7 linked regions of the Homo sapiens genome follow. The protein of the gene in region 1 interacts with the protein of each later gene in a biochemical or structural test. Each region holds a gene or a part of one and is shown on either strand. Other genes may lie near its edges. The genes, in order: WASL, FNBP1, SNX9, PTPN2, ACTR2, VIPR1 and FNBP1L.

The links.
Region 2: the proteins of WASL (region 1) and FNBP1 form a complex in vitro, tested with the Homo sapiens proteins (one study listed by BioGRID).
Region 3: the proteins of WASL (region 1) and SNX9 form a complex in vitro, tested with the Homo sapiens proteins (one study listed by BioGRID).
Region 4: of the proteins of WASL (region 1) and PTPN2, one has a biochemical effect on the other in vitro, tested with the Homo sapiens proteins (one study listed by IntAct).
Region 5: the proteins of WASL (region 1) and ACTR2 interact in a test that uses a peptide from one of them, tested with the Homo sapiens proteins (one study listed by BioGRID).
Region 6: the proteins of WASL (region 1) and VIPR1 form a complex in vitro, tested with the Homo sapiens proteins (one study listed by BioGRID).
Region 7: the proteins of WASL (region 1) and FNBP1L form a complex in vitro, tested with the Homo sapiens proteins (one study listed by BioGRID).

Annotation. Positions count from the first base shown.
Region 1 is NC_000007.14:123,742,504-123,746,003, reverse strand, and holds part of WASL (actin nucleation-promoting factor WASL), read left to right. Parts: intron 1-3,500. UniProt on the Homo sapiens protein: Regulates actin polymerization by stimulating the actin-nucleating activity of the Arp2/3 complex. Involved in various processes, such as mitosis and cytokinesis, via its role in the regulation of actin polymerization.
Region 2 is NC_000009.12:130,033,190-130,036,689, reverse strand, and holds part of FNBP1 (formin-binding protein 1), read left to right. Parts: intron 1-3,500. UniProt on the Homo sapiens protein: May act as a link between RND2 signaling and regulation of the actin cytoskeleton. Required to coordinate membrane tubulation with reorganization of the actin cytoskeleton during the late stage of clathrin-mediated endocytosis.
Region 3 is NC_000006.12:157,906,746-157,910,245, forward strand, and holds part of SNX9 (sorting nexin-9), read left to right. Parts: intron 1-2,919; coding exon 2,920-3,045; intron 3,046-3,162; coding exon 3,163-3,280; intron 3,281-3,500. UniProt on the Homo sapiens protein: Involved in endocytosis and intracellular vesicle trafficking, both during interphase and at the end of mitosis. Required for efficient progress through mitosis and cytokinesis. Required for normal formation of the cleavage furrow at the end of mitosis.
Region 4 is NC_000018.10:12,828,738-12,832,237, reverse strand, and holds part of PTPN2 (tyrosine-protein phosphatase non-receptor type 2), read left to right. Parts: intron 1-1,196; coding exon 1,197-1,295; intron 1,296-3,500. UniProt on the Homo sapiens protein: Non-receptor type tyrosine-specific phosphatase that dephosphorylates receptor protein tyrosine kinases including INSR, EGFR, CSF1R, PDGFR.
Region 5 is NC_000002.12:65,248,331-65,251,830, forward strand, and holds part of ACTR2 (actin-related protein 2), read left to right. Parts: intron 1-2,696; coding exon 2,697-2,769; intron 2,770-3,500. UniProt on the Homo sapiens protein: ATP-binding component of the Arp2/3 complex, a multiprotein complex that mediates actin polymerization upon stimulation by nucleation-promoting factor (NPF).
Region 6 is NC_000003.12:42,516,143-42,519,642, reverse strand, and holds part of VIPR1 (vasoactive intestinal polypeptide receptor 1 isoform 1 precursor), read right to left. Parts: intron 421-3,500; coding exon 313-420; intron 1-312. UniProt on the Homo sapiens protein: G protein-coupled receptor activated by the neuropeptides vasoactive intestinal peptide (VIP) and pituitary adenylate cyclase-activating polypeptide (ADCYAP1/PACAP).
Region 7 is NC_000001.11:93,451,118-93,454,617, forward strand, and holds part of FNBP1L (formin-binding protein 1-like), read left to right. Parts: intron 1-3,500. UniProt on the Homo sapiens protein: Required to coordinate membrane tubulation with reorganization of the actin cytoskeleton during endocytosis. May bind to lipids such as phosphatidylinositol 4,5-bisphosphate and phosphatidylserine and promote membrane invagination and the formation of tubules.

The sequences.
Region 1 (3,500 bases):
TGTGGATTAAGACTGTGTATAAATATATGGAAACTATTTTTATAAAGGTTTAGGGGATTAAAGGAGAGAATGGTGGGAGAGAGGATGATTAAAAGCTTTTTAAAATGGATAACTGATTATTTATATTTAAACAGGTACTCCCTAGGCTGATGAGAGGTATGAAACAGCTTGAAAAGTTAGGAGACCTACTAATAAGTTTGTTAGGTTTGTTAGGGAGCAAGGAGGGCTTCTGCTTGGGCTCTCAGATTTAGGTATGAATTGGAATCATTGTGGAGATTATGAGAAATGCATATGCCTAGGCCCAATTCCTAGATATTACTCAGAATCACTGGATCTGAGGTGAAGCTTGGACATGTCTATTTTTAGCAAGCTTGACAGAAAATTCTAAAGTATATCACAGTTTGAAAACCACTGCTAAAGTCCACGTTGTCTGATAGGATAATCCTTGAGCACATTGGAAATCTTAATAGATTTTTCTTCAATTTTTGGTCTATATTTTGCAAATTGAAGCTAAATTAAGTTAAACCAAATTCTTTTAGTACAGCATTTCTCTCACCGCTGAAGATACCAGTGTACATTTCACAACTAAGAAGGAGATACAGTTGGGGAAGTATTGCACTATTTAATGGGGACTCACAAGATCATATTTGACTTAGAAAATTTTCAGGGGAAAGGTGGAGGCAGTATAGAAGGTGGATTGAGGATTGTGAGGGAAAGACAAGGGAAATCAGATAGTTGATTTATAGTATTGCAGGTGAAATATGATGAGGGCCTGAATTAAGAGAGTACTTTGGGAATTCAAGAACAATTAAAGTCTCCAGCAGAAATTAGTCCCAGTTATATATAGAAGGTGAGGGAAGGGAGTTTCAATAAAGGCAGGCATTATAACCACCAGCAGAAAAAGTACACAGAAACATATTTTTATTCTCATTCGCTGCAAATATGCCTAAATGTTAATGAGACTCTGGATTGGTGATTGGCTTCATGGAGGAGGCAGATCATCAGTAAATCTTTTGTTTTACCACAGTTTCTAAAAATTCATTTTGTGGAAATTGAGATTTCATTGTAATACATAAATACATGATATGTACTTTTACATAAATAGTTCTGATGCCATTCATTAGCTGGTAGTATTATGAAGGGAGAATGAGAAGGTTATAAACAAGATTACTAGGTCTTATTTTGTAGTTAGATCTGTTGCCTTTCATGTAGTGTGATTCAGTTAATTTTATATAAAGAGTATGTGCAGTTTTGCTAAGTGAAGTTCAACATATATAGTCCTGAATAAGTGAGAAACTAAGGAATAGGAAAAAATAAAACATTAAACTACGTCTCTACAGCCATATCTGGTTTATATGGATTGGGGCTGATAATGTTATTGAGCATTATCTTTCCCTGCCATACTCACCTGGTTTGTTTTTTCAAGATTTAGTGATACTTAAGCCATTTTTATTAATCAACCTTAATCTTTATTTCCTTTAACTCCTCAGCACTTGTTTTAACTTGCTTATTTTCTTTAGTTTTTTGTTTCCTCACTATATATAATTCTTGGAGATAGACTTTATGCCTAGGTAGTCTTCTATAATTTTTGTAACTTCTGGCTCCCAGATCAGTGAATACTTATTGATTGATTGAATAATTATAATTACTCGTTTATTTTTTAGGAGCTCATTCTGCGTTTCTTATTGCTTGATTAGGTTGTTAAGCCCTTCAGTTTCTAATGCACATGGTATCTGGACTTTAGTCTTCATTTATTAAGCGACCGAAATGGTTTAGTTGTGCTGCTGAACTAATATAGGTGGTAACAGTTGTCTAACAGTAGTTTGTTTGTGTTCTAAATCAGACCTGTTGGGTAGGGATTCTTACATAGGCATACAGGGAAGGATATGCTTAGAGGGATCATTGTATTGATGATGGCCTGAGTAAGGCACTGTTGGTGGAAAGTTTAGACCGGGAATGTATTTCACCTTGAGTAGTAAGGAAAGATAAAAGTTAAAATTCACTGGATTTGGAATATACAAAGATGAGAAGATACCTTTGTCTAGTATAGAGGAAAAAGATGAGCACAAAAATGTATGTGACGCAGCGTAGCTGTAAGCACAAGAAGAGATTCAGAAAAGTCCAACAGGGTTGGGTTATGAATTTTACTTCTGGTTATTCTTAGCTCTATATATATAATACAGGGACATTTCTTAACTAGTCTCAGCCTTCATGTCTAGATTTGTAAAATGGGCTTAGTCAAGGATTTCAAAGAGTAATTCAATCATTATGGAAAATACTTAGAGTCCATGACACAAAGTATTCTGGGAGTTTGGAGGAGCATATGAAAGAAAGTTGTTATGAATACTATTCAGTGCTCAGTTTAGATTTCCTGTTACTGGCAGGGAGGATTTAGAGTAAAATTTTCAGCTCTATATTGTATTTGTTTTGACTTAGGTAAATTAACAATTTTAAAGTCAGTTAATTATAGGTGTGTAAATTAAAAGTTAAGGAGCAGCTTGAATGTATCTCTTTGGGGAGTGTCTGGGCAGCCTGAGCCTCCCTGGCTGCTAATTGAAGAGGAAGAAAGGGGTCCTGATGAAAAAGTTAGGAGTTCCTGAATTTTAGTCCATGCTCTGCTACCATACATTGTGAATATGAACAGGAATTTTTTTTTTTTTTTTTTTTGAGACAGAGTCTTGCTTTGTCGCCAAGGCGGGAGTGCAGTGGCACGATCTCGGCTCACTGCAACCTCGGCCTCCCAGGTTCAAGTTATTCTCCTCCCTCAGCCTCCCAAGTAGCTGGAACTACAGGCGTGTGCCACTACCCCTGGCTAATTTTTGTATTTTTAGTACAGACAGGGTTTCACCATGCTGGCCAGGCTGGTCTCGAACTCCTGACCTCAGGTGATCTGTCCGCTTCAACCTCCCAAAGTGCTGGGATTACAGGTGTGAGCCACTGTGCCTGGCCATTTCTCCCTTCCTGAACTTCACTTTTCTAATTTGAAAATGAAGGGTCAGACAAGATAACTCCACAGTCTTTCCAGCTTTAATGCTTAATCAGTTTAACTATTCTAGATTCCAGGGACTCTAGCAGGGAAAGAACAGGCCTAATGTTAACTCTAGCATATATGTGTTTTGCACAGCCGAGACTAATATAGCATATATCTAAGCAGAAGGTAGATAATCCTGAATTATTTCATTGAAAATTCCCATTTTTAATTCACCTTTTTCTAAGCATTGTAATTTAATAGGCATTTCACTTTTAAAACAGCAGAGTGAACAGAATAAAAAAGCATTAGTAGTAGAATTACCAACTCTTAGCTAACTTAGAATTATTATTTGTAATTATAATGTATTTTTGGGTTATTAGAAACTGCTTTTTTGGTTAAGATGGAATTATTTTTAAGAATTTCTCTTTTGTTAACCAATTCCATCTAGAATCCTAATTCTGGATGAAATTGTATTAGTGATATGATAGGTGTTACATGTTACTGCTTATTTTCCAATATTAAAAAAATC
Region 2 (3,500 bases), on another chromosome or scaffold:
ACTCCCTGAACCATGGTGGGTAGGGCAGAACTGCTTCAGAAGAGAAACAAAATCAACTTAGTTTTGCCATCCTTACTTCTCCATGAGAACAAATTTTGCACATGTCTTTTCTGTTTAGTGGATATTAAAAGAAAACAAACCGTGGGAGGCCTGGAGATTTTGCAGTTGATATTTAGATATCAGTTTTGTTGCCCTCACTTTGTACATTAGACAGAATCCTGAAAATTTGTGTAAATTGCCATTTTGGTAGGCAAAACTGTACTTTAAGCACATAAAAGAGTTTTATAAGTGTCTATACTTACTATGTGAACACATTACAACTCATGCTTTACATTGGTGAGACATGGAAAGTGCTTCTTTGAAGGACTATTCAAGTATCACCCACTAAGCAGCTAAAGCTAATATTATGTTTCCTGCAAGTATTACTCATACTTGTTTCATCAACACCACCCACATTTAAAAATAAGGCTTTATTTTGACACTTAAAAATTGAAAGCTACTAAGAATACATGAATGCCCTGGGAAATTAATCTAATTAGATTTTAGAATGTGGGTGTGAAGTCTTCTGGAATTAGTGTTTATAAAGGAATATTTGTTTCCTGTTTTACTTGTACACTCATACTAGCTTGAGCCTAGTAATGTGTTTAGTTAAAAAAACTTTTTTTTTTAATGATGAGGCCAAATATGTGTATTATATTAGAGAGTAATTTGGGGGTATGTAAGTTTTTGTTTGTTTGTTTTTTGAGATGGAGTTTCGCTCTTGTCGCCCAGGCTGGAGTGCAATGGCACGATCTCAGCTCACTGCAACCTCCACCTCCCGGGTTCAAGCGATTCTCCTGCCTCAGCCTCCCGAGTAGCTGGGATTACAGGCGTGTGCCACCACGCCTGGCTAATTTTGTGTTTTTAGTAGAAATGGGATTTCACCATGTTGGCCAGGCTGGTCTCAAACTCCTGACCTCAGGTGATCCACCCGCCTTGGCCTCCCAAAGTGCTGGGATTACAGGCATGAGCCACCGTGCCTGACCTCTCTATTATCTTAAAGTCTCGAATGATTGTTATCATTACTGCCATTTATTGAGTGCCTACTATGCCCCAGGTGCTGGACAAAGTGTTTACATCCATCATCTTGTTTATTTGTTACAAGAATCCAGCAAGGTAACTACCATTTGTGCCAATATCCTGGAAGAAGAGGCTTAGATGGAGTCATTAGTACAGTTTTACTGGGGAGTAACACCTGTGAAGGGGAAAGAGTGGAAGCCATCAGATCACGATGCAGACCTGACAGAGTCCCCACCAGGCCAATGGGGAGCTCCAGAGCAGACACAAGAATCCTCTGGCAGAAATGGCTCGGCCTCTGTATCTCTGCCTTCCTTTATCATTGGCCAGAGGTCGTCCCAAGAAGAGGATGGCCTTGGCTGCCAGCTTGCTTAGTCATTGGCTGGGGGTGCTACAAGAAGAGATGCCCTCGACTCAAAAGATGAGGTGGACCCTAAAGGAGGCTGCATGCTAGCCACAGTCCTTGCAGCTGGGCAGCGAGTCATTTTTTGCCACTTCTCCATGTTGCCCAGGCTGGGGTGCAGTGGCACGATCTCGACTCACTGCAACCTCTGCCTCTTAGGTTCAAGTGATTCTCCTGCCTCAGCCTCCCAAGTAGCTGGGATTACAGGCACATGTCACCACACTCTGCTAATTTTTGTATTTTTTTTGTAGAGACGGGGTCTTTCTATGCTGCCCAGGCTGGCCTTGAACTCCTGGGCTCAAGTGATCCTTCCACCTTGGCCTCCCAAAGAGCTGGGATTACAGGCATTAGCCACTTGGCCAAAAACTGGATCTTCTGTGTTAGTAGTGCACAGTTCCCTTTATCCCCACCACTCACTCATATTTCCCCATCACTGCAGTAGATTTTGCTTTATAAAACAGTTGATGTTATTCATATTGAGAATCACTGAGAATCAATGACTCACACCACTAAATGCTGCAGAGCCAGCAGAAACAGTCATGAATGAAGCTCGTACTCAAGCAGATGCTTCATAGATGTCTAGTAATCTCCTAATCCTTTCAAAGCCAGTTATTGTTTCTCTTTTCTAATTTAAATAAATTTGTGTGGATATTAATTAGTAGGAGTAGTATCAAGTTTCTGAATTTGCCCAACAGAAGTATGTCTTGGCGAAAACTATTTTTAAGGAAATTGAGAAAGAACAAGGAGGAATACAGAGTCTCACTCTGTTGACCAGGCTGGAGTGCAGTGGCACAAACATGGCTCGCTGCAGCCTCAATCTCCTGGGCCCAAATGAGCCTTTCGCCTCAGCCTCCTGATTAGCTGGGACCACAGGTGTACACTACCACGCCTGACCAACTTGTTTTTTTTTTTTTTTTTGAGATGGAGTCTTGCTCTGTCGCCCAGGCTGGAGTGCAGTGGTGTGATCTCAGCTCACTGCAATCTCCGCCTCCCGAGTTCAAGCGATCCTCCTGCTTCAACCTCCCGAGTAGCTGGGAGTACAGGCGTTTGCCCGGCTAATTTTTTGTATTTTTAGTAGAGACGGGGTTTCACAGTGTTAGCCAGGATGGTCTCGATCTCCTGACCTCGTGATCTACCTGCCTTGGCCTCCCAAAGTGCTGGGATTACAGGTGTGAGCCACCGCAGCTGGCCTGTCTAACTTTTTTTTTTTTTTTTGAGACAGAGTCTTGTTCTGTCACCCAGGCTGGAGTGCGGTGGCGCAATCTCTGCTCACTGCAAGCTCTGCCTCCCAGGTTCATGCCATTCTCCTGCCTCAGCCTCCCGAGTAGCTGGGACTACAGGCACCCGCCACCATGACTGGCTAATTTTTTTTTTTTTTTTTTTTGTATTTTTAGTAGAGGCGGGGTTACCATGTTAGTCACTGTGTTAGCCAGGCTGGTCTCACTCTCCTGACCTCGTGATCCGCCCGCCTCGGCCTCCCAAAATTCTGTGATTACAGGCGTGAGCCACCGTGCCCAGCCCGGCCTGGCTAACTTTTTTAAAAAAGTTTTTTTTGTAGAGGTGGGGGGGTCTTCCTGTGTTGCCCAGGCTGGACTTGAACTTTTGACCTCAAGTGATCACCGGCCTCGGCCTCCCAAAGTGCTGGGATTACAGGCGTGAGCCACCATGCCTGGCCGACATTCAGGGTTTTAAAGTTTTGAGTCTTCAGGAACAAGAAACGAAACACTTTCTCTATTATCTATAGCAGAAGAAAACTTGGGACCTGTAAAGGAATCTCCTCCCCTTGTACTTCTATTTGCACAGCCAAAATTGAGAACGGGTTCCTGAAATCCATTTAAAGACCAGACAGGCTCTGGGGACAAACGGTGTGGGTGCTCCCAGTTGAGTGAGGCAGTGCTGGAGGGCTCAGCCTGGGTTGCCTTGCTTACCTAATCTAATATTTATTAGTATCGGGCAAGTCCTTGCATCTCTGTTCCTCGCTTTCCCAATCTATAAAGTATGGTATGATGCTTGCCTTTCTCTTGACAAGAAGGCATAAAGG
Region 3 (3,500 bases), on another chromosome or scaffold:
AATGTGACACAAGCCCTTCGGTTTCATTCCACATTTTGATTGGTGGTAGATTTTCTGTCTAGGTGATATTTAGTTGTAGATTCCCAAATGAAATTCTGGAAAAGAGAACTGTAGCTATCTTCTGATCCTATTGACTTAACCCTGTAACAATTAGATTGGGAACCTGAAGCCTTGAGTGTTCTCATCCTGGACTCAATCGAGGATGAGGAAACATCTGGTCTTATTCTGTAGTCTTTGGAAACTTGATAAAATTGCAGGAATAGTATTAGATTCTCTAATTACTTGTGCCTGCATGTTTGAAAAACTCCAAATCCTGGAAGCCTCCAAGCTGAAGAGCTGTAACCAAGAGCCCTTTTTATGCTTTTTCCCTCAAAGCAAATTTGGGATAATTAACTTCTGAGTAGTTATATTAAAGATTTTTTTTTCCTGTTTTCTCTGGACTTAATAAAAATTGAACATGTACCATTATTCTTTTCATGACATTTAAAACTCCTCAAAATCAAGAGCGCACAGCTCTGCCTCAGTTTTGTTTTTTTGTTTGTTTGTTTGTTTTTAAGACAGAGTCTCACTCTGTCACCCAGGCTGGAGTGCAGTGGTGTGATCTTGGCTCACTGCAACCTCTGCCTCCCGGGTTCAAGCAATTCTCCTGCCTCAGCCTCCCGAGTAGCTGGGATTACAGGCATGCACCACCACGCCTAGCTAATTTTTTTTGTATTTTATAGTAGAGACGGGGTTTCACCATATTGGCCAGGCTGGTCTTGAACTCCTGACCTTGTGATCCGCCCACATTGGCCTCCCAAAGTGCTGGGATTACAGGTATGAGCCACTGCGCCCGGCCTGCCTCACATTCTTAAAGGGGACTTTGTCCCAGGTTTGCAGTGGTGGTACAGAGCTAAGGGTTCCAGCCTTTCATTGACCGGCAAGTTTTAAGTAGAACTGCACCCATGCACCCAGTAGGCAGGTCTGCCTGTGTGGGCGTCTATACATGGAAGAAGCTGAGGAAAGCCACCGCGTCTTCAGGAGGCCCAGAGAAAGCAGAGACTAACTCTTTGCTCTAAAAGTGCAGTAACCTTGCCCACTCATGAAACAGAGCCCCGTGAAATTGGGCCTTAGCCAAGCACAGTTGCTGCTCTCGGCCCACTCACTGAGGGAGGTCCCGAAAGTCATCTCCTCTGCAGCTTTCAGCTAGTTTCTTGGATCTGGGCTCTCCCTGAGGGGGTTATAGTAATTGTTCTCAGAGATTTTAGTCTCTTTTTAAACTACTCTTATCCTTGGAGTAGGTCACCTTCCTGACCTAACAGCCTCTGAACTTTAATATCCCAATCCGCTTTTCCCATCTTCCTCTTAAAAAAAAAAATTAGGACTGGGTATACCTTTTTTTCCTTTTTATGTCTGTCTGGCCTTGCCTCTCTGAGGTCTCAGCCGAAACAAATCTCTCTTCCTTCAGCGCAATCTGTGTGATTTTTCTCATTTTCTTTTTACTTTCTTATGGTACTTTTTCAAGTCTGCAAGAATAAAACCTGTTCCATAAATTATTTCATTCTCCTTGAATCTCTGAATGAATCTCTGAGTGAATCTGCTTCCTGAATAGTGGTCCTTTTACAGTCCATGTGTTTGTTTTTTCATTCTCTTCTTGGATTATAACTCAATTATTTTTCATTTTCAAGCCAAGAAGATAGATAACATTCTCAGTATAATAAGGACTTCTATTGCTCTGAAATGTGTTTTGATAAGAGCTACTGTCCTGCAGTCTGAACCTCTAGAATCTGTCATTGTGATCAAAGTTTATGAAATGAATGAGGCAGAACCAACTTGAGACTATTGGTGACTCAGGTAGTGATTCCAGAAGCCTGTACATGAGCTCCAGCATCCAGGTTCCTCTGCAGCTGCCCCCATGGCCTTGGATGCTGTTTTAAATAAGATGAAAAAACCAGGTTTGGGACAGCAGACCTATTGTCACCTAGCAGTGCCTAGAAGAAATGATCCTCAGGCTCAAAACTTACACGAGGTCTCTACACCCCCACATAGAATTTAGCTGGTTTCCCTTCCTCACCTCCCACCACAACTAAAACCCCAGTGAGCTAGTGTAAGCCTCGCCTGAATTTGTGAACTTTTGCCCTAGTCACAGATAGAAGAGAAGGCCAGTGAGAAAAGAATGGAGGCCTACCCTCTTCAGGCAAGCCTTGCCCAGGTGGACGTGATACCCGGGGGTTGGAAGTGAGCCAGCCCACTGTGCTTAGGCACATAGCAGTCCACGGAAGAAAACAGCTAGCCTGGTTCTTGCTTTTAAGATGTAGTACCTCCCCCTCCCCCCACCTTGCCACTAGTAGTAAAACAATGACTATCAGGCTCTGGCCAATCTGATTAATCGTTTCTATGAGCCAGAACAATGCTACTCAAAGTATGGTCCACAGACCACTTGCCCATCTGAAAACTGCTTGTTCCTGATCCACCGTGAGATAGGTACAGTACATGAGAATATTTTGAAAACTTGAGGACAATTTGGTATTGTTGAAAAATCAAAATGTGTAATGTTATATTTCACCAAACTATTAGTCTGTGATAGATTCGAAATTTTTAAAAACTAGTCCTTCATCACGTGTAGCTTGAGACAGCTAGACTAGAAAGAAACATTGTCTTGTAACCAGCACTGTCCTTGGGAGAGGGAAGCTGGTGTCTCCTCTCCATGGGCTGAGCTACTCACGTGGGAGCAGAAGGGTTTCCCACAGGTGTGTTCTTTAAACATAATATCTAACAGGAACAGAAACCATTGAACCATTTATGTACCTTTCAAAGAGGAACAAGAATGACCCTCCAAAGGACTTCTCATTCTGAAAAGAATTACTTGCTGATTCACATCAATTGTATTTATTATTTTTCCATGTAACAAAATTACTTCTTTCTGGAACATTGGCATAGGTTGGAGATTATGGCCCAATGTGGGTTTATCCTACCTCTACTTTTGACTGTGTGGTAGCAGATCCCAGGAAAGGCTCCAAAATGTATGGTCTAAAGAGCTACATCGAATATCAGCTAACACCTACTGTAAGTATCCACGTTATCAAAAGCAGAATCATGTTTGGATCACTGATTGCAGCTTGCTTTTTTCTTCATTTTCTAGAGTTGGCATTGGTAACCTTTTCTCTTTCCCTTATTTTGTAGAACACTAATCGATCTGTAAACCACAGGTATAAGCACTTTGACTGGTTATATGAGCGTCTCCTGGTTAAGTTTGGGTCAGCCATTCCAATCCCTTCTCTTCCAGACAAACAAGTCACAGGTGAGTGTGTGTAATGCTAAACCCAGGATGACAAATAGAAAGACTCCAGTCAGATTATCTTCCTGTAAGTCAGTGATGGCATTTTCCATCCTGTAGAGCAGCAGGATGCAGGAGTTGGAAACAGTAATTAAATACAGCTATGAAGAGAGAACCATTGCATGTTGTACATCTATCTGGAAGTTGCCTAAACGTCTCACAAGAACGTTTAATGTGCAAATCA
Region 4 (3,500 bases), on another chromosome or scaffold:
GGCTTAGGCAGGAGAATCTCTTGAACCTGGGAAGTGGAGGTTGCAGTGAGCTGAGATCGTGACACTGCACTCTAGCCCGGGTGACAGAGACACCATCTCAAAAAATAAAAAATGCTTTTAGTCTAGAACCACTTTAACCCCCTTGTTGTATGTGGGTCTGAAGCTCTGGGCAGCCCTAGCCCCCACTCCTGACTCTGCCCCTAACTCATACCACTCTGCTACATTCCATGTGAGTTGAATGCATGTTCATAGTTATTTTAGGTGTAGCAAAACTACATCTCATTTTAACCTTCTCATTTAAAACTCGTTAAAATTTGTACATAGGCTTTTCATCTCTTATTAGATCTTCCTTTTGCCCTATGCTATCATTAAAATGTGAAAGCAATTGGAAATACATGAAATATTTTGCTTTTATCCCCATGGCATTGTTGTAACATGGACTGTTGCCCCTTTTTAACTCTGCCCAATACTCTTCCATTGAGGCCGTACATACTGTGCATTTGTAGATTAACAGTTTCATTGTGGTTCAGGTACTTTAATGATTCCTACTTTTTCTAGAAATCTTTTTGTAGTTGACTTGAGTTGGTTGGCTGGCCAGTGATGGTACAGACTTTTTTCTCATGGATTTTCTATGATGTGTGGGAGGCACATCCTCTTGGCTGTAGAAGATGAAGAGGACAGAAATTTCCTTGGTCTACCTTCTTTGCAGCTAGAACATGATCAGTCAGATACTCCTACTCGTGATTTTGTCTCTGATTTGCCTATAGATTGTACATGAATACTATAGCCACCTTCATATGGCAGTGCCAGCAAAAGCAAGGAGATAGTAGTGACGGTATCAAGAGCAGCATCCCAGGTTGACTTTCTTTGGGGCAGGACCTTGCTTGTGTCTTAACCCTTGGTTCCTACCCAAGTTTGTCTCTCTAGTCCTCAACTCTGAAAGCCACTTGATATCTTACACAATTCCTTTTTTGCCTGAGAAAATAAAAGTCAGTTTTGATCATTTACAACCAAAAATCCTAACTAACACAGACCTGTTTTTGAAATCAGGTAGATTGGAAGTCTTGGTTTACTTCTTATAAGCCCGTCCGCTGTCTGTCTTGTAACATCCCAGGAGCAGACTTAACAAGGCCTTCCTGGAGCCTTGCTCTTTCTGTCTGCTTCCCTCATCTGCTCTCTCTCCTCTCTCTTCACAGGGTCCACTTCCTAACACATGCTGCCATTTCTGGCTTATGGTTTGGCAGCAGAAGACCAAAGCAGTTGTCATGCTGAACCGCATTGTGGAGAAAGAATCGGTGAGTAATATTTAATATTTACAACTTAGTATACTGTATGTGATCATTAGCATATAAAGATTTTCATTTTGGGGCCAATATTCATTCCTTAGTTTTGGCCTTTAATTGCTAAAGGCTAGCGGTCAAAGTGTTTCTGTCCGGAAAAACTCATGTATCCTTTTCCTTTCTTAAGTATTTTTATAACAATTGCAGACCTTTCATCTCCAAGATAGAAATACAATGGAATAAATATGGACTAGCAGTGACATATAGATCTTTGGAATCCCTAGGAATCCTTATTGACCTATTGTCAATAAGTCCTCTTCCAGCTTTAAGATCTTGTACTGTTCTACTTCAGATTTCTTACTTTATTCTACATTTCATAATTGCTGGTTTTTAATGATGATGAAAATTTCCTAATCCACTTCTAATTAGATGTGGCAATGACATGCCAGAATTTCCAGCAGTATCAGCATAGTCATTTACAGGGGTTTTTCCTGATCTTCAATATCATTTAAAAATTAAGGATTAGGCCAGGCACGGTGCCTCAAACCTGTAATCCCAGCACTTTGGGAGGCCGAGGCAGGCAGATCACTTGAGGTCAGGAGTTTGAGACCAGCCTGGCCAACATGGTGAAACCCCGTCTCTACTAAAAATACAAAATTAGCCAGGTGTAATGCTAGCTACTTGGGAGGCTGAGGCAGGAGAACCGCTTGAACCTAGGAGGTGGAGGTTGCAGTGAGCCGAGATTGTGCCACTGCACCTCAACCTGGATGATAGAATGAGACTCCATCTCAAAACCCACTGCACTGCAGCCTGGGCGGTAGAGTGAGACTCCATCTCAAAAAAGAAAAAAAAAAAAATCAAGGATTATGACATTGTCAGTTTGAGCACCATTGTAGACTACATGATTTGCAAATTTTATTTCTCTCATTTTGGAGTATAATTACTGTATTAATAAGATAACACTGCCACCAGAATTTAGAAATCATGTTTATGGTGGTTGAACCTAGATGGTTAACAAGAGTCAGGTTTAATTATTTTGGGGAAGATTACTTCAGAGGTGGTGGGTAATGTGTTATTCATCAAGAGACCCATAATGTCTGATTATTGTTCTTTTTATTTCATTAATAGCCATTATTGGTCAGTGTTCAGCTTCTTAATTCATTATGGGTTACAAATGATGATAATCCAATTCTGTCATTACTTCTCTTAAAAGCAGTTTTCCAAAAAAAAGTTGATTCCCTATTGAGGTCATCTGTTCTCAACAGATGACCAATTAGGAGTTTTTCTGGTGGAGAGTGGCAGGAGAGGTTGAATTATTATGGGTTTGGACATACTGGATTAATTTTACTCCTTTGCAGTTATTTTCCTTATTTTTGATCAAATTACCCTGTCATTGGCTAGCAGCAATGTCTTTAGGTTGGGTCCTGAGTCCTCTTTTTTTTTTTTTTTTTTTGGAGACAGAGTCTCGCCTGTTGCCCAGGCTGGAGTGCAGTGGCATGATTTCAGCTCACTGCAGCCTCCACTTCCCGGGTTCAAGAGATTCTCCCGTCTCAGCCTCCCGAGCAACTGGGATTACAAGCACCCACCACCATGCCCAGCTAGTTTTTGTAGAGATGGTTTTACCATGTTGGCCAGGCTGGTCTCAAGTTCCTGACCTCAAGTGATACGCCCACCTCGGCCTCCCAAAGTGCTGGGATTACAGGCGTGAGCCACCTCACCCAGCTCTGAGTCCTTTTTAACAAACCTTTAATAGTTTCCTTGGCTGGGTGCAGTGGCTCACACCTGTAATCTCAGCACTTTGGGGAGCTGAGTTGGGTGGATCGCTTGAGCCCAGGAGTTTGAGACCAGCCTGGGCAACATGGTGAAACTCTGTCTCTACAAAAAATACAAAAATTAGCTGGGTGTGGTGGCGCATGCCTGTAGTCCCAGCTACCTGGGGTACTGAGGCAGGAGGATCACTTGAGGCCAGGAAGTCAAGGCTACAGTTAGCTATGGTCGTGCCACTGCACTCCAGCCTGGGGACAGAGCGAGACCCTGTCTCAAAAAAAAAAAATTTTTTTTGCTGTCTGTAATGACTGCATCTCAGGCTCATCTCAAACTCTTGCTGCCCAGACCTGGAACCAGCCATTTCTCTAAGGAGTTTTGGTTTCTTTTAATGGGCAGCAGTATTTCAAGATCACAGCAAAAATAAGGATATATATTGCAACTGGACTGGTCATT
Region 5 (3,500 bases), on another chromosome or scaffold:
CAGATGCTGCAGTGAGCCGAGATTACACCACTGCATTCCAGCCTGGGCGACAGGGTGAGACTCAGTCTCAAAAAGAAAAAAAGGGAATTGGGCTTTTACTGTGGGTGAAATATGGGGCTGTTACAGGAAAAGGAGATGCTCAGATTTAGATTTCTCTTGTGTTGTGAGTATCCCACAAGGAGGCAAAGATAGAAGAGTTGGAGACTTTTTCAGTCATTTAAGCAAAAGATAATGATGGTTAGGATTGAAGTAGTAGTAGTAGAGATAGTGAGAAATTACCAGATTATAGGTCTGTTTTGAAGGTAGGGCTATAAATGATACGGTTCAACAAAGAAGAGGGTAGACAGTGGTGAAAAGGCCAAGGACCAGAGAGATAGGAGGAGCCAGCAGAAGGAGATTGAAAACGTTATTGAGGCCGGGCTAGGTGGCTCCCAGCACTTTGGGAGGCCAAGGCGGGTGGATCACTTGAGACTAGGAATTTGAGACCAGCCTGGCCAACATGGCAAAACTCCGTCTCTACTAAAAACACAAAATTAGCTGGGCATAGTGGTGCACGCCTGTAATCCCAGCTACGCAGGAGGCTGAGGCAGGAGAATTGCTTGAACCCAGGAGGTGGAGGTTGCAGTGAGCTGAGATCACCCCACTGCACTCCAACCTGAGCGACAGAGCGAGACTCTGTCTCAAAAAGAAAAAAGAAAAAGAAAAAAAAAGTTAATGAAATAATGAAATAAGCAGTTACAGAGGAAAGAGAGAGCAAGAGAGCTATGATCCTCATAGTTTAAATAAGTAATTTTTCAAGGTTCTTTTATTTTTGTATATATGAAGTAGAAATTTAATAACTTCTGTAGCTTTCCAGTTACTGTTTAATGTACATATTTTGTTTACGAATATGTTTAAATGTTGATGGAAATTTTTGAAAGGGTTTAGAAGAAAATGTTGTTAGTATTTTTAAAGCCTGTATTAAAACTCAGTTTTTGTATTAAGTGTTTTGAAAATCTAAGATCATGGTTTTAAAGAATCCATATGATTTCTTATGGCTTATATTTTAATATTCTTATTTGTTTATGACTACAAATATGTCTATGACTGATAGTGTCCTACCTTAATCTCATTAACATGCTTTCACATTGGTATGTGCATATATATGATCATTCTTCCATTTTCATCCCTGTGGAGGTGGAATAAAGGATGATGGAATAAAATACTATTCAGACTATCTAATTGCTTAATTGATGAGTATGTGTTTCAGAGTTGTAGAATTTAAATTCTGTGTAATTTTCATTGTGGTCAGTTGTAAAATTTCTAAATATTTAGATATTCAGAGTGATAGGCAACCCTACCAGTCAAGGGGTGCTCAGTCAAGATCACCAAAAAAAAAATCATGCAGGATGTTCCCAGCTGACCTGGGCTACAGAGAATGAACATGTGTGTGACCAGTGAGGGCAAAAAGGAAAGAACTCCTCCTTCCAGGGTAGTTCATTTGGAGGTTGTAATTACAGTCTTGATTCAAGTAGGGACTGGGCTCAGCAGCTAAGCCATTTCTGTATCTTCCAGCAATCAGGAATTAACCATTGATTTTTGTCTTTGCCGTGGCATTTTACTGGGTTTTTTATTTTTTCTTTCTTTCTTTCTTTTAATTTTTAAGCTGCTCAGGGTAGACAGAGCTACACTCTTGGCCCAGATTGAGGGAGGGGGTACGAGGCTCTGTAAAGCAATTTCTATATTTTGTCTTCGAATTAAAAGATATTTCCCGGCCGGGTGCGGTGGCTCACGCCTGTAATCCCAGCACTTTGGGAGGCCGAGGCAGGCGGATCATGAGGTCAGGAGATGGAGACCATCCTGGCTAACACGGTGAAACCCTGTCTCTACTAAAAATACTAAAAATTAGCCGGGTGTGGTGGTGTACGCCTGTAGTCCCAGCTACTCGGGAGGCTGAGGCAGGAGAATGGCGTGAACCAGGGAGGTGGAGGTTGCAGTGAGCTGAGATGGCACCACTGCACTCCAGCCTGGGCGACAGAGCAAGACTCCGTCTCAAAAAAAGAAAAAAAAAAGATATTTCCCTGGCTGGATGTGGTGGCTGACACCTGTAATCCCAGCACTTTGGGAGGCCGAGGTGGGTGGATCATGAGGTCAGGAGTTCGAGACTAGCCTGGCCAACATAGTGAAACCCTGTCTGTACTAAAAATACAAAAATTAGCCAGGCATGGTGGTGCATGCCTGTAGTCCCAGCTACTCAGGAGGCTGAGGCAGGAGAATCAGTTGAACCCTGGAGGTGGAGGTTGCAGTGAGCCAAGATTGCGCCACTGCACTCCAGCTTGGGCAACAGAGTGAGACTTCATCTCAAAAAAAAAAAAAAAAAAAAAGAATTTCCCTTAAGGGATATCAATTAAGAAAGTCTTGTTCAATACAGAGAGCTTTCTTTCACACTAATTAGTCATTAACTAATACACTAAGAAATCTTTGCTTTGTCACGCTTATGAAATGCTTGGGGACTTAGAAATCTGTCTTCAGATTTGGAGCTCTGTGGCAGCAGGACTTCAATAAGAAATAAGAGGAGCTGATGAAAATGGAAGACTATTTCAGGTCCATTTGATTCTATTTTGGGCAATTAATTCACTCTGTGACCATGAGGAAAACATTTATTTATTATGTAATTTTCTAAATACCAGTTTTTTTCTTTCTGTCTGCATTTACAGGTAATGTTTGAAACTTACCAGTTTTCCGGTGTATATGTAGCCATCCAGGCAGTTCTGACTTTGTACGCTCAAGGTAGGTTAAGCTTAACTGTTAGAAAAAACACTTCATCAAACATTTATTATGTATGTTTTATGTCAGAGAATTTGGTTTCTCAATAAGTTATAAGCCCCAGAAAACTACATTATTTATATACCACACTTTGAAATATTTTCAGTTTTTAAAATTTGTGAAATAAGATTTTATATACATTTTTATTTGCTAAATATGTATTTAAGGTAAAAAAAAAAGGCTTAAAGACTTATTTTTTAAAAAATAGGATATTCTCTCTTTTAAGCTATTTAAATTTTTTTTGAGACAGATTTTCGCTTTTGTTGCCCAGGCCGGAGTGCAATAGTGCAATCTTGGCTTACCACAACCTCCACCTCCTGGGTTCAAGTGATTTTCCTGCCTCAGCCTCCCAAGTATTTGGGATTACAGGCATGTGCCACCACACCTGGCTAATTTTGTATTTTTAGTAGAGATGGGGTTTCTCCATATTGGTCAGGCTGGTCTCAAACTCCTGACCTCAGGTAGTCCGCCCGCCTCAGCCTCCTGAAGTGCTGGGATTACAGGCATGAGTCACCGTGCCTGGCATAGCTATTTTAATTTTTTATGCATGGAATTTGTCCCCAGAATTGGCTTGAGTTAAAAAAAATACGCAGAGATTCAAAAAGGTAGCATAAAATCATGCCTGTCAAATATATAGTAGATTAAAAAGGAGAAGGTAAACATTTGGGAGTGCATTTCTAACTTTTGAGGTGGGT
Region 6 (3,500 bases), on another chromosome or scaffold:
CTGAATCAAGACCAGCCCAAGACAACAGGACTATGGGAGTCATAATTTAATCAAGTACCTGTCAGTCAATCAGTTATCAATTGTTGAGCAAATATTTAGTGAGCCTTTCCCACATGCTTATCTTTATGTGAAGAGCTAATCAAATCCTGTGAGTTCTTTAAAGACCCAGCACCATTGCCTCCTCTGCCAGGGAGTCCCTCGGATTGCTCCAGCCTCTTTGACCACTTTCCTTTGCCTTTCCACTTCCTTGAGAGGTGAGTCCCCACTCCAGCCGGCCCCACTCACATCACCTCTTCAACCCAGGGGTCTTACCTTGAATGGAGGAGAAGAGCTTGAAGATGAGGGGACAGGCCAAGACAACTACCTGGCCCCGAGGGGTGGCTGGCCAGCAGGTGAGGTTGTCCCACATCTTGCTGCAGCCTATGGGGGTAAGGCAGAAGACACATGGGTGAGCACAGTGCAGGTGCCTCCAGCCCTGGGGCCTGAGGCCATAGGCACCCACTCTCTTCCTCCCTCTGCCAGGCTCCCACCTCAAGGAGCCTCCAGTCTGAGAGGGGAGGCACAGCCCTGCGGAGGTTGCACGGGGCTGTCCTGACAGGGAGGCAGGAAGGAGGCCTGACTACAGTTCCTTGGTCCTTAGTGAGGGATGGAGCGCCCCCTGGGGATGTTTCCAATGCCAGTGGTGGTTTTGACTGTTGCAGCAATAGGGGGGCCTCACTGGCATTTGATGGGCAGTCACCAGGGATGCCAGACAGACAACTCCTGCACAATGATGAATTGTCTCACATTCTGCATGGCTTCCAGATGAGCCACTGGGCATATGTATAGGTGAAAACCTTTCATAATGACCAGAGCCTAGACTCTTACACCATTTTATGTATAAACACACGCCATTTACTTACTTATTTTTTGAGATGGAGTCTCACTCTGTCACCCAGGCTAGAGTGCAGTGGTGCAACCTTGGCAACCTCTGCCTCCTGGGTTCAAGCAATTCTCCTGCCTCAGCCTCCCGAGTAGCTGGGACTATAGGCCCATGCCGCCACGCCCGGCTAATTTTTGTATTTTTAGTAGAGACAGGGTTTCACCATGTTGGCCAGGCTGATCTCGAACTCCTGACCTCAAGTGATCCTCCCACCTTGGCCTCCCAAAGTGCTGGGATTACAGGTATGAGCCACCGCGCCCGGCCAACACAAGCTGTTTATTGCACAAGTTTAACATACATGGAGTTTTCCAGGAATGCAGCCACTGAGAAAAGGGAGGGAAGATTGTATTTTGTTTTGTTCTGAACTTCACTAAGAGTTGTTCAATGTTTTGGAAAATCATGATACCCATAGCAGTGCTGCCTGTGATACTTGAGTCACCGATACAACTACCTGTGTCCATCAGTCTGCATTTGTAGGCCTCACATTCCCAGGATTTATATTTGTAGGTACAACCTTCAGACTACATCTAGTGTGGTTATGCTTGAATATGTACATGGTACTTTATTGTAAATTACTTTCCTTTTAATATTTATTTTACAGTATAGCTAGAACATTATTTTTTATAAAGTGGATGGGTACGTGTCCTGAATTTCATATTATGATAGTGAAGGAGGCATTAGAAAATGTTTTGAGACTCTGTCTCAAAAAAAAAAGAACTAGATGCATCCCAATATACTCATCACCCCATCATAGTCTTGCTCTGTCGCCCAGGCTGGAGTACAATGGCATGATCTCGGCTCACTGCAACCTCCACCTCCCAGGTTAAAGTGATTCTCCTGCCTCAGCCTTCTGAGTAGCTGGGATTACAGGAGCCCACCACCACACCCGGCTAATTTTTGTATTTTTAGTAGAGACGGGGTTTCGCCATGTTGGCCAGGCTGGTCTCGAACTCCTGACCCCAGGTGATTCACCTGCCTCTCAGCCTCCCAAAGTGCTGGGATTACAGGCATGAGCCACCGTGCCCAGCCCGCACCTAGTTCTTGAACAACACAGATTCCCCCAACGTGGTCGGATTGTGAATTGTGATGGAGGGGAATAGTTAGGGAACAAGTGCAGCGAAAACCCTGCATTGTGGCTGCATTCTCCGCCACAGCCTTGCAGAGCCTGGCCAGTGAAAGATGCACAGTGTGGTCTCTAGGGGTCTGCTTGAATAGGCACATGCAAATGCCATCATTTAGTCTGTTCAGAAGCTTCATGCCCGTGAGGGACTAGGACTGCTCTGGACCCATCCCATGCAGGAGGCTTAATTGTCTCTTTGCAATCCTGCCAGTCCCATAGATTTGCTCAGAAAACCCAACCCCTGAGCCAAAGTCAACGCCAGCTGGGCCAAGCCCAGCCCAGCCCAGCTCAGGTCCGAAGGTTCACAAGTTCCCAAGAAGGGGGTCTGGGAAGAGGAGGTGGAGGGATGTGTTTACTTGGGGAAGAGCCTCGGGACTGTGTGCATTGGAGTGGGCTGGCAGCAGCAAGGGGCACTTTCTGGGGCTGCAGCAGTCAGGCCACATCTATAGCTGAAGGCTGAGGAGGACACCTGGATCCCTAGGGCTTGGCCAGAGATTGCAGCCTTCCTTGGTCATGGACCCTGACCACTTTTCCCCCAACCTGTCTTGAGGGCTCTTGTGGCCTCATGTTGGCTGTCAGTCCCTCTTCCATTCTGGGCCAGCTTCTCTGAAAGCTGAGTAGGGGCACTTCAGGTCAGTCAAACCCTGCTGGGGGTTCAAGACCCTGTTAAGAATATCAGCAAACATTCATATAACATTTGCATGTGCCAGGCACTGTTCTAACCTCTTTGGATGAATAACTTATTTAATGCTTCCATTTCACAGATGAGGAAATGGAGGCACAGACTGATTAGAAAACCAGCTCAAGGTCATGTTGCTGGTAAGCGGTACAGTCTATTCCCACTCCTCTTGGTTGGAAGGCCTGTCATTTCTCTGGGAATTTTGCTGCTGCTGGACTTTGTTTACCCCTCTCTGACAGCACTGGGCACGCCCTGTTTTGTAGGCCGGCTATTGTGTCTGAGTCCCTGCCAGACTTTGGGCTCTCTAAACCTCCGGCTGCCAGCACAGGCCAGGGAGTGAATCCGGGGCTGGGTCTCTGGCCCTGAGCTCTGCTTCACTGCAGTGGGACAGAAGAGAGGAAACCAGGCCCTGCCCTTGGGAGGCCACACTTGGCCTCAAGGAATCTCAGCATAACCAAGGCTGGGCTGTGAACTGGTGCTGGGGTGTAGGGCAGCCAGCAGGGCAGGGGAGCAGGATGAGAGGCCAATATGAGGGACATGGTCAGGGAAGCAGGGGACGGGGTGACAGCCATGAATATACTTGGTACCTGGAATGGCCTGTTGTCCTGGGCTAGGCAACGGGAGTATTTCCTGTGTGCCTGCCCTAATGAGGCCCCATAGGTCCCATCACACATGTCACCAGGCCTACAGAAATACAGGGCCCAGGCTGGCTGTGTGTGCCCACAGGTGGGGCTGTGCCCTCAGCAGGAAAGCCCAACCCAGAGCTTGGGGTAAGGGAT
Region 7 (3,500 bases), on another chromosome or scaffold:
GATACTGTCTTCACTTCTTCAGGATGCGTGGTAACATCTTAGGCATTGCTTATTGTGTTCATTTCTTTATTACATAGCAAGAATGGATGGATCAGATAGCCAAATATGAATTAATAATTTCACAAAGCACAGATTTTGAAATTACTAGCTTTTTTTTAACAGATAGGGACATTAGAGATTGGAAAAGACCTATGTTTAGTAAATAAGTTTTACTTATTAAGAAATAGGTTTTTAGTTTTTGAGGACCTAGTTAAAGTTCGACAGAAAAAATCTGTGTATGGGTTGTGAATGTGTGTATAAATATGAAAAAAATATATGGCTGAGCACCTCACATTCATATGATTTACTGAAAAATTTGCTACCCAAGGAAAATGCTGGACAAGTCTGGTAGTTAGAAGATGGATTCAAATATCTGATTTAATTTATAAGTGCATATAAATCTTTTTTATGCCTTAATTTCTTGGTCGATATAATCTTTGGCCCTTAGTTTAAGAATGTGTAATTTAAAAGCCATTGTTATTTTCATCATATTATTTATATTATTATTATTTTTGAGATGGAGTCTCTTCTGTTGCCTAGCCTGGAGTGCAGTGGTGCGATCTCGGGTCACTGCAACCTCAGCCTCCCTGGTTCAAGCCATTCTCCCACCTCAGCCCCCCGAGTAGCTGGGATTTCAGGTGCACACCACCATGCCCGACTAATTTTTGTATTTTTAGTAGAAACAGGTTTTCACCACGTTGGCCAGGCTGGTCTTGAACTCCTGACATTGTGATCCGCCCGCCTCGGCCTCTCAAAGTGCTGGGTTTACAGGCGTGAGCCACCGTGCCCGGTCTTCATCATATTATTAACTAAATGCATTTGACAAAGCTTATATCTTTTTGGAAGAAACTGAAAAATGTGGGTTGAGTGATAGATTAGGTGGATAATTTATGTATTATCCTCAGTGTTAACCTTTTAATACTTTATTATCTTGGCTTCATAACACTTTATATAGCACTTAAATTTACATTGTAAGTGACTAGATTGTCCTTGAGTGTAGAAAGGCTGGATTCATCTTTGTTTTCACTGACCAAGACAATGCTTGTAGGTGATCATGCATGTTTTGCCCAATTGCATTAATAGTTGATTGCATTACCCAGAGTATTGATTACTAATTAGCAAGTGTATCTTTAGGGTTCTGAAGGCCTTTGTAGATGGTGATAGGTTAGGTGATCTGGATAACAGCTCAAGAAAGTCTAAAGCTGAAACCAAAATTATAAAGTTAAGTTTTACTACTTGGGTTAAACATTTTTGTCAAGTAAAATGGTAAAAGGATGGGGAAGAAAAGACCTACAGGTAATTTCTGGTGAATTTACTTGATTGATAGCTTGGTAATGTGACTGCCTAAATAATTGGTGAAATCTTAGGCCACATTAATAGATTTATCTGTAACAAAGGAATTGGGTCTCATAGTCTACTGGTTAGACCATATCTGTAATATATATGTATATTTTTAGAGATGGGGTCTTGCTATATTCTCAGGCCAGTCTTGAACTCTGTGCTCCACAATCGTCCTTCCTTAAGCTCTCAAGAAGCTGGGACTGTCTATAATATTGACTTTAATTTTACTTCACATTTTTTGGAGGGTGCTTGTCTAGAGGAGGTTGACAAAGAAAATTCATTATTAATGTAAACTGAATTGCTTCTCCAAAAGTAAATGAAAGGCCGTGAAACTGCTGTAGGAATTCAGTTTTGTTTTAAAAATACAATAATTTTGTGTCTATTATTTGGGAAGCACTGTTATGTTTGGTGAGATTTATGAAGGCTTATGATATTGGCCCTGCCCTGACAAAAGGTAGAGTTGCTTTGAGATGATATAACTTTACTGTAAACTCCAAAATACTTCCCTACATTGATACCACTGCCCAGAATGCCCTCTGTTGACCAATTCCTATCAACCCCATGCCTCCAGACTACCCATTCTGGATATTGTCTTATGGGACTACCACCTTATATTACGGTTATTATAGTTATTTCTTGTGTATTCAAATCTTAGGGAAATTGTCATGGTATAAATACTTAAATATCTTACATTCCCTTTTGTTGGTAGAAATTGTTGTGTTCAACATTGTATTACAGACGTTATTGCTATTAGTTAAGGAGGATGAGTGAGAGGTATCAAGATATCTGTTTATGTCACCATTCCATAATGACTATAATAAGTTGGAAGCTAGAGAGCTGCCTCTAACCAGTATCTCCTTTGCATAGCCACTCATACTCCATTTACTTCCATTTGCTTGCTTTCTTTGCCTTTTTCTTAAAATATTTGCTCTCTCTCCTTCCCCCACCCTATAAACCTATAAAATATGATTTTGGCTGGAAACTTTAAAAAAACCTATTCTACCAACTTTTTCCTCTGTCAGCTAGTTTGTAGAGAGGAAATAGTAAGAGAAATAGTAATGGCTTATAAATGTCAAATACCTTCTGTGTATATCAACAAGTGCTGTCTTATTTAATAATCTTCAATCTTTAAACATTTTCACTTCAATAGCAAAAAAAAATCTGTCTTGGGGAATATATCTATAGAATATTAAAAACTGGTAGGAAAGGTTATGTAAAGGTTTTGTTCTATAGAATGTGAAAGCCGTTCCATATTTCAGTTCAGGCCATGTCTATCTAATACACCTGAAACACGTAAACAGGACTGATGCTTGTTCATTCAACAGATGTTTATTTCATGCCTATTATGGCTTCAGCACTAAGCTAGGCTTTGTGGGGCATACTAAAAGAATCAATTAGATATCAGCATGAGCCTCAAAGCAACCCTAAAACAACTAGAAAGTAATAGATGGACTTTAGGGCTATGAAAAGTGACTTTTCATTCTAGGTATCACAGGAAAATCTTTAGGAAGACTGTCATTTGACCTAGGTTTTGGAATAAGAAGGGTTATGCAGGTGGGGGTTCCTGACAGGTTCCTAGAGGGCAGATATTGTGTCTTACTCATTGCTTATTCATTGTCTGATTCATTGCTGTATCCTGCCTGGATTAGCCTGACATTAGTAGGGTCTTTAATAAATGTTTGTTGGACTGACCTGAGTCTAGTGTTGCGTTTGACTTGAATTTGAGTGCACAATGTCTGAAAGTAGTGATGAAGGGTAGACTGGAACCAGGCAGGCAAAGAGGTTGGTCTGGCTGATTGCTTGATTCATGAACCTCTTGTGTGTGTGTATGGGTGTGTCTGTGTGTGTGTGTGTGTGTGTAGTTACACATTTGTATATAATCAAACCACTTTTCAGACCATTTAAAAATTCACAGAAGAAAATCTTAGTTTATTGGTAGAAGGGATTACCTCTTGCTTCTGAATACTTTGGTGGCAGGAGGGGAATACCTCTGGGTTTTAGAAGATGAAAGTGTATTTATTTTAGCGCCGCTGCAAGAATATTTGAAGGATGTTATTTCCTTTAATAATATGTTACTAATTTGAAATTAGTTTTATTTTTAAATATATATTATTACTACA